Regions from separate parts of the Homo sapiens genome. Here region 2 is linked to region 1. A link means that fine-mapping ties the variant in region 1 to the expression of a gene that starts in the linked region. Tissue or cell type: sun-exposed skin. Region 1 holds a variant in brackets; the other region holds the start of a gene. All regions are shown on one strand. Distances are between the middles of the regions.

What was found. PIP is the estimated chance that this variant, and not a neighbour inherited with it, causes the effect.
Region 2: it holds the start of SLC17A7, and the variant in region 1 is fine-mapped to the expression of SLC17A7 in sun-exposed skin (GTEx, PIP 0.93).

Annotation. Positions count from the first base shown.
Region 1 is chr19:49,463,172-49,471,171 of GRCh38, reverse strand. ALDH16A1 (aldehyde dehydrogenase 16 family member A1) reads right to left here. Exons shown (of 17, transcript NM_153329.4): 9 at 7,223-7,318; 10 at 6,909-7,045; 11 at 6,650-6,755; 12 at 6,410-6,540; 13 at 5,267-5,434; 14 at 4,889-5,090; 15 at 2,606-2,791; 16 at 2,186-2,308; 17 at 122-866. The coding sequence ends at 705. Among named protein-coding and RNA genes, the nearest start is that of FLT3LG, 7.0 kb to the left of the region's middle. RefSeq lists a silencer at 1,669-1,718 and an enhancer at 2,139-2,338. The variant C/T (reference allele first, on the strand shown) is at 4,495.
Region 2 is chr19:49,437,682-49,445,681 of GRCh38, reverse strand. SLC17A7 (solute carrier family 17 member 7) reads left to right here and starts at 4,155. Exons shown (of 12, transcript NM_020309.4): 1 at 4,155-4,364. The coding sequence starts at 4,303. RefSeq lists an enhancer at 1,752-1,861.

The DNA.
Region 1 (8,000 bases):
TATTGGCTCATGGGAGCTGACCTGTTAACAATTCAGGATCTCGCAGGCAGTTGTTTAATCACCTGTACCTTGAAATCCGGCACGGTGGGAGCATTTACATCATGGAAATTGACAAAAGTCATATAGGAGGACTTTAATTTTATTCCAGAGAGTTCCTTTACTGCATATGGATTCTGGGGCCATGAAAAGGTAGAGAAAACCAGAGAGCAAGAGCCACCAGATGGAGAAGACAAGAAGATATGAGAGTCCTAAGGCCCTGTCTGGGGTCCTCGGGGGTCCCCTTTCTCTGTTTCACAAACACAGCACCGTGCTGGAGCCGGCTCCTGAGCTGCTCAACCTCAGAACTAAAATGGCCTCGAGCCAGGTGTGGTGGTGCATGTCTGTGGCCCCAGCTACATATGAGGCTGAGGCATGAGGATCCCTTGAGCCCCAGAGGTCGAGGCTGCAGTGGGCCGAGATTGTGCCACTGCGCTCCAGCCTGGGTGACAGAGCCAGACGTTGTCTCAAAAAAAAAAAAAAAAAAGAAAAAAGCCTCATATCTGCCAGAAGTTGCTACACCCTTTCTTCTCGCAGAAGCACAGCTAGGGTTGGTCAGAGAGTTTATTGGGAGACACAGGAACCAGAAGGGGAAAGTCCCAGGTGTCTGTGGGGTGCATCTCCCCTTGGTGTGAGGTGTCCAAAATGCAGTAGGTGGCGCTCAGGCATCAGTCCCCCATAGGCAGCCACAGGGCCTTGGTCCGCGCCACTCGCAGCCCCAGCTCTGGGCCTGCCCCCTCGGCCTCCTGGTCCCAGGCCCGCGGGCAGCCCCTGCTCGCCCACACCGGTTTGAGGTTTCCTGCCGAGGCCCACTCGACAAACTGGGAACCCTGAGGGGAGGAAGAGACGGGGGTAAGCACTTCTGCAGGCTTGTTGCTGAGCACCTGCTTCCTCCGCGATGAAGACTGTTACTGACGAGGGGCTTCAGGCTGGACCCAGGCTCTGCAGCTACAATGCCCAGCTCCTCCCAAGCAGAACTTCCAGATGGTAGGGAAAAGCACTGGACCCAGTGGTTAGGGAATTTCCTCTCCCTTAACAGCCCATGTTGAAAGGAATGGGCCCCAAGGCTCTTGTCAACAAGTTCACATCTGTTACCAACAGGAGGTTTAAGAGAGTGGACGGTGGGGCGCGGTGACTCGCTCCTGTAATCCCAGCACTTGGGGTGGCTGAGGCGGGAGGATCGCTTGAGTTCAGGAGTTTGAGACCAGCCTGGACAATATGGCGAGACCCCGTCTCCATTTAAAAAGTAAAAATTGGTTGGGCACAGTGGCTCACGCCTGTAATCTCAGCATTTTGGGAGGCTGAGGCAGGCAGATCACGCGAGGTCAGGAGTTCGAGACCAGCCTGGCCAATATGGCGAAACCCCATCTCTACTAAAAAAAAACCCCCAACAATTAGCTGGGCATGGCGGTGAGTGCCTGTAGTCTCAGCTACTTGGGAGGCAGGAGAATCACTTGAACCCGGGAGGCAGAGGTTGCAGTGAGCCAAGATCGTGCCACTGTATTCCAGCCTGGGCGACAGAGTGAGACTCTGTCTCAAAAAAAATAAAATAAAATAAAATAAAATAAAAAAAAAAACAGTAGACTCAACCAGTTGTGCTGGCTCACACCTGTAATCCCAGCACTTTGAGAGGCCGAGGCGGGCAGATCACTTGAGCCCAGGAGTTCAAGATCAGCCTGGCCAACATAGAGAAACCCCAGTCTCTGCAAAAGAAAAAAATTAGCTGGGCATGGTGGTGCACGCCTGTGGTCCCAGCTACTCAGGAAGCTGAGGTGGGACGGTGGCTTGAGCCTGGGAGGTTGCGGCTGCAGTGAGGTATGATTGCATCTGGGTGACAGGGTGAGGTTCTGTCTCAAAATAGAAAAACAAAGCGTAGACTGTGGGCCTCCAAATCTAGGGTGTGGTCCTTAGCAACGGGCTGTCCCCTGAGACGAGGTCTTTGGGCTAGGCAGCTCTCAGGCCCCTGTTGCTAAGGACAGCCTCTTCCTTAGTAACTTGAGTCCTAAGGGCGGGGCCTCAAAACCTTCTTGTCAAGGAGTTTCTCCCCTTACCAACAGGAGTTCTAAGAGGGCGGGGCTGTGTTTCCAGAAAAGGAGGAGCCTGTTTGAAGTTTGAGATGCTGAAGATGGCAAAACAGAACAAAGAGCACCTGGGCTGATCCGAAATACCACATGGCCTGGACGTCTTGGTGCAAGGCCAGGCAGCGGGTCAGATGGTCCCGGTCTCCTGTCACCACGTTGGCCAGGCCTGCTGGGAACACGGTGGCCATGTCCTAGGGGATAGAGAGAGTGAAAGGTTGGGGAGGCCGTGGGGGCAGGGCAAGGAGTGGGCATTCAGGGGGTGCCCATGGGAGGGAAGGGGATGGGGGGTCATGGAGGAGAAAGCCCCAGGCCTAGGGTGAAGAATGGGCACTGGGTCCCCAAGGAGTGAAGGTTTGGGTGCTGGGGCTGGGGGCAGCATGGGTACCACGGAGGGTGGGGTAAGAGACAAGCTCCTGCCGACTTTGGGGCGCCTTTTTCTGCTGCCCTGAGGCTACGGGGAGGAGAGGCAGGAAGGCAGGGGGCTATACCTGGCAGACCTCCAGGGCCAGCAGAGGACAGGCCGCACTGGGCACCATGACCACAGTGTTGCCGTAGGCCAGGGCGGGAGCCAGCAGGGACACGAAGGCAAGCAGGGGCCACTCGTCCGGACACACCACAGCCAGCACACCCAGCGGCTCCCGCAGGCGCAGCACAGGGCCTCTCAGCCCGGCTACCTGCAGGGACAGGTGGGTCACGTGTGGGGCAGGGGAGCCCCGCCCGCAGTAAATGAGAGATCCAGTTCCTCTACATTCTCCCCAACACTTGGTGTTGGCCCAAACCGCACCATTGTGGAAGCCCCTGCCATTTCGCAGACGCTGGTCAAAGTGAATCATTCCACGGGGGTTCGGGCGGTGAGAAACATCCTGCATAACCGCCTTTCTTTTTTTTTTTTTTTGAGACGGACTCTCACTCTGTCGCCCTGGCTAGAGTGCAGTGGTGCGATCTTGGCTCACTGCAACCTCCGCCTCCCGGGTTCACGCCATTCTCCTGCCTCAGTCTCCTGAGTAGCTGAGACTACAGGCACCTGCCACCATGCCCGGCTAATTTTTTTTTTTTGTATATTTAGTAGAGACGGGGTTTCACTGTGTTAGCCAGGATGGTCTCGATCTCTTGACCTTGTGATCTGCCCACCTTGGCCTCGCAAAGTGCTGAGATTACAGGCGTGAGCCACTGCGCCTGGTCTATTTTCTTTTGTTAAAAATAAATATGGTGTTGGGGGGTGGGAGGCAAGGGGAGGGAACTTAGAGGGCAGGTCAATAGGTGCAGCAAACCACCATGGCACGTGTATCCCTATGTAACAAGCCTGCGCGTTCTGCACATGTATCCCAGAACTAAAGTAAAATAAAATTTAAAAAAAAGAAGGCCGGGTGTAGTGGCTCACACCTGTAATCCCAGCACTTTGGGAGGCCAAGGTGGGCGGATCACGAGGTCAGGAGATCGAGACCATCCTAACATGGTGAAACCCTGTCTCTACTAAATATACAAAAAAAAAATTAGCCGGGTGTGGTGGTGGGCACCTGTAGTCCCAGCCACTCGGAAGGCTGGGGCAGGAGAATGGCGTGAACCTGGGATGCAGAGGTTGCAGTGAGCCGAGATTGCGCCACTGCACTCCAGCCTGGGCGACAGAGCGAGACTCTGTCTCAAAAAAAAAAAAAAAAGAAAGAAAGAAATATGGTTTGGCCCATGATATAGTTCAGATGTCCCACCCAAATCTCATGTTGAAATGTAATCCCTGGCCAGGCGCAGTGGCTCACGCCTATAATCCCAGCACTTTGGGAGGTCAAGACAGGCGGATCACTTGAAGCTAGGAGTTCAAGATCAGCCTGGGCAACATGGCGAGTCTCTTGTCTCTGCAAAAATACAAAAACACCCAGTCATGTGTGCTGGTGTGTGCCTGTGATCCCAGATACTCAGGAGGCTGAGGTGGGGGGCTCACTTGGACCTCGGAGGTTGAGGCTGCAGTGAGCCATGATTGTGGCACTGCACTCCAGCCGGGTGCCAGAGGGAGACTGGTGCCAACATGCCCAGCTAATTTATCTATTTTTTGTGGAGACAGGGTTTCACTGTGTTGCCCAGGCTGGTTTCAAACTCCTGGCCTCAAGCGATCCACCCACTTTTGCCTCCCAAAGTGCTAGGATTACAGGCGTGAGCCACCATGTCTGGCCAGGTATTTTTTGTTTTTTGTTTTTTTTTGTGACACAAGGTCTCACTCTGTCACTCAGGCTGGAGTGCAGTGGCACGATCTCGGCTCACTGCAACCACTGCCTCCTGGGTTCAAGCAATTTTCCTGCCTCAGCCTCCTAAGTAGCTGGGACTATAGGTGCCCACCACCGTACCCAGCTAATTTTTTGTATTTTTAGTAGAGACCAGGTTTCAC[C/T]GTGTTGCCCAGGCTGGTCTCGATCTCCTGACCTCGTGATCCGCCTGCCTCAGCCTCGCGAAGTACTGGGATTACAGGCGTGAGCCACTGCGCCCCCAGGTGTTTCTTTACAGCAATGTGAGAACCGCCTAACAGCCCACTAAATTGATTTTAGGGTCCAGGAATGGGTCGCTATCCATCATCTGGCGAACGCTACTCTACGAGGCGGGTTGTGTGCCCACTCACTGTACAGATGAGGGAACTGAGGTAGGGAGAGGTGAAGCCACTTGCTGATGATCCTGCCGTGGAAGGCGGTGGGGCTGGGCCCGAATTCCAAGCCTGGGTTATCTCACAGCCTCTGGTCTGAGCCCCACCCCGCCTGCCCAGCTGGCCCAGGTGCCCACAGACCCTTCACCTGCAGGGTGTGGCCTTGGGCCTGCACCCGGGCCCCCCACGCCCGAAGTCGTCTTGCGCTCAGCTCCACCTCCGCCTCCGCAGCCTTGAGCTCCGCTCCCTGCCTCTCCAGCCTCGAGGCCAGGGTAGACTTCCGGCGCTCCAGTGCAGCCGCCAGGGCCCACAGCAGGGCTGCCCGGGCTCCTGGGGACTGGCCCGCCCAGCTGTGGGCAGACAGCGCACAGTGGGGGTTGGCATCCTGGTCTTGGCTCTCCTGACACCCCACCTCTGTCCACAGCCCCTACCCTGGGGGCCCAGCCTCCCAGTCCACCAATTGCTGTGGGCAGGCTCCCCTCTCTGCCACACCATGACCCTTGGGCTTTCCCGTGTGACCCCTTACCCAGGGAAAGCCTGGTGAGCGGCCTCCACAGCACCTCGGATGTCCTTGGCTCCACCCTCAGCCACGTAGCCATGGAGGTTGCCAGACGAATCCCGGATGGGCCTGGAGCTTCGGGCCCCAGGAGCCTGGAAACGGCCCCCAACGAAGAGCCCATAGGGGGGTGCTGGGCTGGAGTAGGGTGGGACATGAGGAGGAGTCCTGGGGCCTCAATCTGCTCAGACCCTATGCTCTACCGCACTGGGAAGACTGCCTTGGCTCCCGTGAGCCTCTGGGGCACCCCAAACCCCTGTTCCCATGAGCCTCTGGGGGACCCTAAAACTCCTGCTCCCATGATTCACTGGGGGACCCTAAACTCCAGCTCCCATGAGCCTCTGGGGGACCTTAAACTGCTCCCATGAGCCTCTGGGGAACCCCAAATTCCTGCTCCCATGAGCCTCTGGATGACTCAAGTTTCTGCTCCCATGAGCCTCTGGGGGACCCCAAACCCCTGTTCCCACTAGCCTCTGGGTACCCTAAACTCCTGCTCCCATGAGCCTCTGGGGGACCCTAAACTCCTACTCCCATGAGCCTCTGGCAGACCCTAAACTGCTCTCATAAGCCTGTGGGGCACCCCAAATTCCTGTTCCCATGAGCCCCGGAGGACCCAAAGCTTCTGCTCCCATGAGCCTCTGGAGGACCCTAAGTTCCTGCTCCATGAGCCTCTGGGGGACCCTAAGCTCCTGCTCCCATGAGCCTCTGGTAGACCCTAAACTGCTCCCTTGAGTCTCTGGGGGGACCTCAAACTCCTGCTCCCATGAGCCTCTGGAGGACCCCAAGTTTCTGCTCCCATGAGCCTCTGGGGGACCCCAAGCTCCTGCTCCCATGAGCCTCTGAGGGACCCCAAGCTTCTGCTCCAGTGAACCTCTGGGGGACCCCAAGCTCCTAGACCCATGAGTTTCTGGGAGAGTACAGACATTCATGGGGCAGAGCTGAGAGTCTCGGCAGGCCTGGGGTAGGGAAAGTGTGAGGCCACAACGTGGTACTCAGCAGGACTAAGAGATGGTTTGGATGGACCTCGCGCCAGCCCTCCAGTCCACGGGGAAACAGGCATCAATTCCCCTCTCCCCGTTCACACTCCCAGACCACTGGCCCCCAACGACTCACCTGGGCCCTATTTCAGGCCCAGCCGGCAGGGTTGAGGGAACAGCGAGGCCAAAGGTGTCATAGTTCAGGTTCTTGGAGAGGCAGGACAGCCGGGCAGGGGTCCCTGAGGGCCGCAGATACTCATACAGCCCCTGTGAGAGGGACGGTGTCAAGAGGATGCAAGGGGCACGCGAGGCCGGATGCGAGTGTCAAGGGCATGGGGCGGCGGGGGGGCTGGTGACGGGGAGGGGATGTACTCACGTCTGGGCCCCCGTGCCAGGAACACCCACTCTCCTTGCAGCCGCCTGTGGGCACCGAAGGGTCTCTGAGGCCGTGGGCGTTGATCCAGACAGTGCCCACCTGGAGCCTGTGGGGAAGATGAAGGTGTCCAACAGAGGAAAACAGACGGTGGCAGGCCGGGAGAGGGGTGAGTTAAAGGCGCGGGGAGCGACCCAGGGAGAAGGGAGATGAAGATGGAAGAATGAGGAGAGGAGTGAGCGCCCGGGCCACGCAGACTGACCCATAGCCCAGCTCCAGCGCCTGCCCCAGCCTCTCGCTCCACACACTGGCGCTGCCCCCGCGGGGCGTCCCGTTGGCCACCAACAGTGCCTCCTTGGCTGTGCGGAAGGGGGAGGCCACGACCACAGGCCACGGCACCTGCAAGGGGTGACCGGGAGGCTCAGCCCTCCAGGGCCCACCCACCAGGGAAGGAGCCTAGAGCAGGCAGCAGCCCCCACGCCCAGGTCACATGGTTACCCCAAGGGCTTCCCCAGGCACAGAGCTGCTGCCCTTGGCTGGCGGTGGGTAGGAGCTCTGCAGCCTTAAGGGTCTCACCTCCACCTGGGCACATGGGGAGGCTGGGGGCAGGTTGGAGACCAAGGTTGGGGGATAGAATGGGCGTTCCGAAGGCACATCACCAGCCTGGAACACCTAGGGAGAGAAATGATCTAGAAGTCGACTTCTGGTCCCTTCCTGCTGAGACCGAGGACTGCAGGACCCCAGCCCCTCCTCCCTCAGACCCAGGAGTCCAGGCCCCCAGCCCCTCCTCCCTCAGACCCAGGAGTCTGGACCCCCAGCCTCTCCTCCCTCAGACCCAGGAGTCCAGGCCCCCAGCCCCTCCTCCCTCAGACCCAGGAGTCTGGACCCCCAGCCCCTCCTCCCTCAGACCCAGGAGTCCAGGCCCCAGCCCCTCCTCCCTCAGACCCAGGAATCCAGGCCCCAGCACCTCCTCCCTCAGACCCAGGAGTCCAGGCCCAGCCCCTCCTCCCTCAGACCCAGGAGTCCAGGCCCCCAGCCCCTCCTCCCTCAGACCCAGGAGTCTGGACCCCCAGCCTCTCCTCCCTCAGACCCAGGAGTCCAGGCCCCCAGCCCCTCCTCCCTCAGACCCAGGAATCTGGACCCCCAGCCCCTCCTCCCTCAGACCCAGGAGTCCAGGCCCCAGCCCCTCCTCCCTCAGACCCAGGAATCCAGGCCCCAGCACCTCCTCCCTCAGACCCAGGAGTCCAGGCCCAGCCCCTCCTCCCTCAGACCCAGGAGTCCAGGCCCCCAGCCCCTCCTCCCTCAGACCCAGGAGTCTGGACCCCCAGCCTCTCCTCCCTCAGACCCAGGAGTC
Region 2 (8,000 bases), 25 kb after region 1:
AGTGCAGTGGTGCAATCATGTAGCTCACTGCAGCCTGGAACTCCTGGGTTCGAGTGATCCTCCCACATCAGCCTCTGAGTAGCTAGGATGACAGGCATGCACCATTGTGCCCAGCTAATTTTATTTTTTGCATTTTTTTAGAGATGAGGTCTTGCTATGTTGCCCAGGTTGGTCTTGAGTTCTTGGCCTCAAGTGATCCTCCCACCATGGCCTCCCCAAATACTGGGATTACAGGCGTGAGCCACTGTGCCCAGCCTAGTTTTGACCTCTTCCTCTAACTGGAGCCCAGTCATACTGAACAGTGTCCTGACCACACCCATTTTCCCTCATCTCTTAGTTTCTGCTGTTCCTGCTACTTTGTATCCTCTTCCCAGTACATCTGCAGAAGTTTCTTTCTTTATTCTTTCTTTCTTTTCCTTCCTTCCTTCCTTCCTTTCTCTCTCTCTTTCTTTCTTTCTTTTTTTTTTTGACAGAGTCTGGCTCTTAGGCCCACGCTGGAGTGCAGTGGTGCAATCCTGACTCACTCTGCAACCTCCCGAGTTCAAGTGATGGTTGCACCTCAGCCTCCCAAGTAGCTGTGACTACAGGTGCCACCATGCCCAGCTAATTTTTAAATATTTTTTATAGAGACGGGGTCTCCATCTGTTGCCCAGGCTGGTCTCGAACTCCTGAGCTCAAGTGATCAGCCCTCCTCAGCCTCTCAAAGTGCTGGGATTACAGGAGCGCCCTGCCTTGATAAATATTTCTTGAGTTAATAAGTGATTGTTGAGGCCGGGCACAGTGGCTCACACCTGTAGTCCCAGAACTTTGGGAGGCCAAGGCGGGCGGATCACCCAAGGTCGGGAGTTTGAGACCAGCCTGACCAACATGGAGAAACCCCGTCTCTTACTAAAAATACAAAATTAGCCTGGCGTGGTGGCAAGCGCCTATAATCCCAGCTACTAGGGAGGCTGAGGCAGGAGAATTGCTTGAACCCAGGAGGCGGAGGTTGCTGTGAGCCCAGATGGCGCCATTGCACTCCAGCCTGGGCAACAAGAACGAAACTCCATCTCAAAAAAAAAAAAAAAAAAAAAAAAGTGATGGTCTATACCCTCCTCTTCTTTAGTGAATCCTAGGATCATCAGTAGATGGAGGAACTTCAGTGGTAAATGCTCAAAGCACAATGTGAGTTAGTGGGGCATGGTGGTGCACACCTGTTGTCCTCAGCTACTCGGGAGGCTGAGGTGGGAGCCCAGGGAGGTTAAGACTGCAGTGAGCTGCCCCTGGGCGACAGAGTGAGACCCTGTCTCAAAAAGGAAGGAAGGGAGGAAGGAAAGGAGGAAGGAAGGAAAGAAGGAAGAAAGAAGGAAAAAGAAGAGAAAGAAAAAGGAAGGAGGAAGGGGAAAGGAAGGAAGACAGAGAAAGAAGGAATGAAGGAAGGAAAGAAAAAAGAAGAGAAAGAAAAAGGAAGGAGGAAGGGGAAAGGAAGGAAGACAGAGAAAGAAGGAATGAAGGAAGGAAAGAAAAAAAGAAAAAGGAAGGAGGAAGGGGAAAGGAAGGAAGACAGAGAAAGAAGGAATGAAGGAAGGAAAGAAAAAAGAAGAGAAAGAAGAGGAAGGAAGGAAAGAAAAGGCAGGCAGGCAAGCACAATGTGTCTGCAATGGGGTGAATTGTGAGGGAGGGGGAGAAAAGACGGGGAAGAGGTCAGGGTGGGAGTGACTTCAGGTAGGGTCTTTCCGGCCGCGGAACGGATGAGCGAACGTGGGCGCCGTGTCCACCAGAGGGCGCAACCTTTCCCTGCCCATCGTCTCAGAGAACTACATCTCCCAGCGGCCCTCGGAGTGCGCGGCCCTTCTCAAACGAGCGCTGAGGCTCAGAGGCCGCTGGGACTTGTGGTTGGGACGGTGAGCCGCTGGAGGGGGCCGAGTAACTCATTCCCAGGTCCTGAAAAAGTGTGCGGCTGAGTCCTTTCCTCCTTCCTCGGTTTCCATGGCGATGGTTTCGGCAAAGGCCCAAGTTTTGGCAGCGGCGGGGCCCGCTTCCCACTCCCTCCTCTTCACCATCTGCTCCACCCTCACACCTGGCCCCAAGCCGCAACCACCGCCTCCGCACCCGGGCCGGGGACTCTGCAGCCACTGGGTGGCGCGTGTGAGCGGCTCCCGCGCTGCTACTTCAGCCCCACGAGTCCCAGTTCCTACCTCCCTCCTGCCTCAGACCCGCAGCGTCCTCCGTTCTGGGGTCCCAGGGGTTTCTCAAAGCTGTGAGACCCAGAGACACAGCCAGTCAAGGCTGGAAGCGAGAGGCTGCGGCGGTCAGTGGCTTCCCGGCCACCCCGTCCTTGGCGCCCGCCCGACGCGCCGTCTGCTCCTCCCACCCCACCGCGGGCCGCATCATGAAAATTTAATACCAAATGCATTTGCGGCCCGACGCGGGGAGGTAGTGGGGAAAGGATCACCCTCCTGGGGCCTGGATCTGGAGGTGGACTCAGCGCCGGGAGATGGGCTGGTCTGAGGACAGGAGCGGGGCGGGACCCTGTCTGCGGGCCCAGGACAGGGAAGGGCCGGGCTCTACCCAACGGGGCGGCGCTGGAATTCCGGCGTGGAGACAGAGTTCGGTGGGCGGGGACAGATTCCGGGGGTGGGAGCAGGACTGGGAGGGCAGGGACAGATCCCAGAGGCGGAGGCGGTGGGCGGGGGACAGATCCCATGGGGCAGGGGCAAGACTGGGAGGGCGGGGACAGATCTCAGGGGCGGAGGCCAGAGCTCGGTGGGCGGGGTCAGATTCCGGGGGCGGAGGCAGGACTGGGAGGTCGAGGACAGATCCCAGTGGCGAGGGTCAGAAGTCGGAGGGCGGGGACAGATCCCATGGGGCCGGGGCAAGACTGGGAGGGTAGGGAGAGATCCAGGGGGCGGGGAGAACTGGGTGGGCGGGGACAGATCCCATGGGGCAGGGGTAGAACACAGAGGGCGGGGACAGATCCCAGGGACGGAGGCCAGAACTCGGTGGGTGGGGACAGATTCCAGGGGGCAGAGATAGATCCTGTGGGGAAGGGGTAGAACTCAGATGGCAGGAACAGATTCCAGGGGGCAAGGACAGAACTGAGAGGGCGGGAACAGAGCCAGGGACAGATCCTAGGAGAAGGGGACACAACTCCAACGGTGGGGAGAGAACTCAGAGGGCGGGGGCAGAACTCAGGTCAGCGACAGATCCTAGGGGAGGAGACAAATTCAGAGGGCGGGTGAGGATGCCAGGGGGTGCGGATCACAATTTAGGGGGCGGGACAGATCTCAGGGGGTGGAGACAGAACTCAAATAGAGGAATGGATCCCCCGGAGCTAGGGAAGAACTCAGAGCGCGGACAGATCCCAGAGGAGCAGAGAAATAACACAATGGGGAGACTATGGGGTCGCAGCTGGCACTGGCGGGGTGTGTGAAATATAACTGTGGGGGGCGGAAGCCAGAGGGAAGAAAATCGGGGTTAGGGAATGAAACTCAGGGAGAGAAGCAACAGGGAGGAGAGAGACGCCGGAGGGAGAATAGAGCTGGAGGAGTATGGGATTCAAAGGGGAAAGATGGAAACTAAGGAGGAGATGGAGCTCAAGGGTGAAGAACCCGGGTGGCGAAAGGGACTAGAGGGGGACGACAGGTGGATCGAAGTAGGCGTTGGACTTGAGGGGAAAGAATTTCCCTTGAATGAGAAAACAAAGAACTCCCTGGATGAGACTATTGGAACTGGGGACGAGGTGGGATGGGGATGGAATTGCGGGGTGGGGGCGGGGAGGAGTGAAGGAACTGGAGGATGAACGCAGAGGGAAAGTCAGAGAAGACAGGATTGTAAGGGACGCAATTAGGGGGAACAGAAGTCGGGGAGAGAAATGATGGGGATGAGAACTCAGGAGAGGAGAGAAAATCTGGGTAGGAGCCAGGGGTGATGGAACAGGGATAGGGGGAGTAGCCTGGGGAAGGAACAGAATTGGGGGGCGTGAACTCGGAGGCGTGAGTTCAGAACCCACAGGCGTGGTCTTGGAAGGCTCAGGAGGGGACAGGACGAGGATGAAAGGGCTGCGAGAGGGGGCGGGTCTGACAGACGAGGGGAGGGGCCTGGTGGGGCCGGGGCGGGGCCTCCCGCGCCCCGCCCCCGGCGCTGAGTCCTGTGACAGCCCCCGGGCCGCCTGCACTTGCAGCCTCCTTCCCCCCGAGCGGAGCTGCGGGGCCGGCCGGGCCGGGGCTGGACCCCGGGAACCCGGACGCGGCCGCCCGGGCCCGCGGGCGGGGGGATCGGCGGGGGGGACCCGCGGGGTGACCGGCGGCAGGAGCCGCCACCATGGAGTTCCGCCAGGAGGAGTTTCGGAAGCTAGCGGGTCGTGCTCTCGGGAAGCTGCACCGGTGAGCCTGGCGGGGGTCCCGGGAGAAGAGTGGGAGGATCTGAGGAGGATGCTAATTCCCACCTGGGCGCAGACTGACAGATGAACGGGCGATACCCCGGCATGGGGGTCCACCCATCTGTCCAGTTTTCTGCCGTGGGCTCCGACGGCGCTGTTCTCCCTGGTCGAGCCTTGTCCATTATCCTGTTCCTTTTTCTGCACCCCACCCCACCCGGCTCCACTCTCTCTGGTGCTGTAAATGCCTCTCTCCCGGGTCTCTGGCTCCTCCCCCACCACTTCTGGGTCTCTGTCCCCGTCTCTTTCTGGATGTCTCTGCCCCTTTTCTCTCTGGGTCTCCGTCTCCCTCTTTTTCCAGATCTCGGCTCCCTTCTCTCTGGGCCCCTCCTTCTCCCTAGATCTCTGCCTCCGCTTCTTTGCGTCTCTGTGCCCCTCTCTCTGGTTCTCTGGCCATTGCTCTCACTGGATCTCTATCAACTCCTGACTCAGAGTCTCTGTCCCCCTCTTTCTGGGTCTCTCCTCTTCCCTGGATCTCTGGTCCCCACTTCTCTGGGTCCCTGTCCCCGTCTCTGTGTTTTAATTCTCCCACCATGGGTCTCTCCGTCTCTCTGTGTCTTTTTCCGTTTCTGTCTGGCATGGAGTTTAATCTGCAGCTAAAGCGGATTGGGGCTCATAGCCCGTTGTCCTTGAGGGGGTGAGGCTGGGTGGAAGAAGTCACAGCACCCTGGGTCCCTGGGAGAGAAAGGAGTTAGAGGCCAAAAATTTCGGCTCCTGGGGTAGGACAGCCTTCCCAAAGGATACAGGCTGGGGCTGACAGGGACTCCCTCCCAACCAGGTTGATGACCCCAGTGAACCGAGTGTCCCTCAGGATAATCTGGACACCTCCCCACAGGCTCTCACCCCCAACCCCAGCTTTGGCTCTAAGTCAGATAAATTACTCAGCTGCGGAAAAGCCTAAAAATATATCTGGCCACAGTGCACGAAGGAGATGGCCTCATCAGCACCATGCCCCTGCCGCCGTGCCCTCAGGCCCTGTCCCCTTGGCCCACAGCCCTGACCCTGTGTTTCGCTGAGCTTCAGTCCACCTCGCTAGGCCATGGGGGTCCTTTGCTAAGTCTAACATCAGTCTTGCTTGCTGCAGATCACCTCTTAGCTCCAAAGTTACCCCACCCTCTAGTAACATGAGAGACAAGAATAAGGCTGGACAGAAGTGGGGGGAGGTGGGCAGGAGGATGGTGCAGTGACGGAGGTTGGTGGTGGAGGGGAAGCTGAGATAACCTCACCCCTTCTTTTTCCAATTTTCCAGCCCCTCCCCACCCTTTTTCTCGCCTCCTTTCACGAGTTTCTCAAAATACATCAGTGTGAAGTCAGGAGAATGAGAGAGAGAGAAAGAGACGTGCTGGTGGAGGGGGCTGGGGGGTGGCAGCGGGAGGGATGTATTCCTCAGGCCCCTCCCTCAGTCTCTGCCTCTGTTTCTCATCTGTGCTAGGGTTTCTCACAGTCAATCTCTCTGGCTCTCACTCTCTGAGTTACCTCTTGGGTCCCCAGAGACCCCCGGGCTCTGGCCAGGACCATCAGCAGGGAGTTTGTGCAGAGAAAAGCATTTGCTTCCAATGCCTGGGGTTTGCTCTGATGGTTGGAGGGAGAGGGGAATACCCCATATTAGAGACAACAGGTTGATCTCATTTAATCCTCTAGACAAAGATGGGGAAACTGAGGCTCCATTCTGGGGTTGGGGAGATCAGTGGATGAGTATGAGCCCCATGATTTGAACCCAGGTCAGTCTCCCTCCCAAGCCTAGAACAGAGCTCTTCCTTGAGAAGAGTGATGCCACAGCTGGTGGGGAGCTTCCTTGCACCCAGGGTGACTTGGAACAAGGACATGGGGGAATGGGATGCCAGAGAGATGAGAACCCAAGGTGCCTCCTTTCTGAGAGCCAGGTCTTGGGCAGGGGGATGCCGAGGGCCAGTAAGGGATCAGGTCCCATTGCTGTTCTTGTCTGTGACCTTGGAGTGCCACTTCAGCTCCCCGAGCCTCAGTTTCCTTAGTTGTACAATGGGAAGAGAAGAGAGAGCAGAGGGACATAAGGAGACAAAGACGTGGGGGAGTGGACAGAGATCCTGAGAGAAGCAGAGAGAGAGAGAGGGAGAGACAGAGAAGTTGAGACATCTCAATTTGGGGTAATGGCCTCCTAAGTGTTGTTTTTCCTCATCGCCAAGTCCCCAGGCCTGAGTTTGGGGTATCCAGGGAGGGGAGGGGGATTTACATCTAGGGTCTCCCTTCTCTGTCCTTGTCCCCTGCAAAGCATCAGGGCCACCTTCATCTCTGTGTCCTTGGTCCTCTTGCTCTAAAATGATTGATATCACCTTGAAGTTCCCTCTTTATTCTCTTGCATTTTTGCCCTTGTCCCATTTTATAGATGTGGGATACTGAGACCCCCTGTTTAGACAGCCTTGATTAGAGATCTGACATCTCCTCATATTAACAAGGAATCTCACATCAGGGGCTGCAATCACATCTTGAGTTTCAGGGTCAAATATCATCCGATGTCAACCTGGGTCAGTCTAATCTCTTTGGGTGATGGGTTCTGATGGGTGGGGGGAGTTACTGCCATCCTGTACTATTCGTCCTAGTGGCTTCAATCCCCCCTATCTCTGGCTCTCTGTCTTCTTCCTCTTGGGGTCTCATTCCTACTCCTTCTGGGTTCTGTCCACTCCCTGGCTTCTCCCACCCCTGTTTCTTAACTGCCCCTCCCCACCTCCTTAAGTTCTAGGATGGGGAGGGGTTGCTGTGTTCTCACAGCTCTTCCACCTCCCTCCCCCTGGACCGTCTGGCTGTTCCTTCCTCCCCCGTCCCAGTCTCCCTCGCCTCCATCTGTTCCAGCCCCTTCCTGGGATCCAGCCCGATCCCCTGGCTGCCTACCCACCTCAGAGAGGGGCTGCACCTCACAAATCACGTCCCCAGCCTGTCTATCCTCCGTCTCCCAGGCTCTCCATCTTTCTCTTGCATTCTGGATCTCTGTTCTCATCTCTCTGCATCTATGTTCTATCTCCTGGGTTTCTGTCCCCGCCTCTCTTTGGGACTCTGTCTGCTTCCTTCTCTAGGTTTCCATCTCTTCCCTCTCTGGGTCTCTGTCCCCCTATTTCTAGGTCTCTCTCCCCCTCTCTCTGGGTCTCTGTCTCCCTCTCTCTGGGTCTCTGTCATCCTCTGTGTCTCTGACCCCTCCATCTCTGGGTCTCTGTCCCCCTCTCTATCTGGGTCTCTGTTCCTCTCTCTCTGGGTCTCTGTCTCCCTTTCTCTCTGGGTCTCTGTCCCCCTCTTTCTGGGTCTCTGGCCCGCTATGTCTCTGGGTCTCTGTCCCGCTGTATCTCTGGGTCTCTGTCCCCCTCTCTCTCTGGGTCTCTGCTCCCCTGTTATTCTCTCTCCCTCTCTCTGGGTCTCTGTCCCCCTCTCTATCTGGGTCTCTGTTCCTCTCTCTCTGGGTCTCTGTCTCCCTTTCTCTCTGGGTCTCTGTCCCCCTCTTTCTGGGTCTCTGTCCCACTATGTCTCTGGGTCTCTGTCCCCCTGTATCTCTGGGTCTCTGTCCCCTTCTCTCTCTGGGTCTCTGCTCCCTTGTTATTCTCTCTCCCTCTCTCTGGGT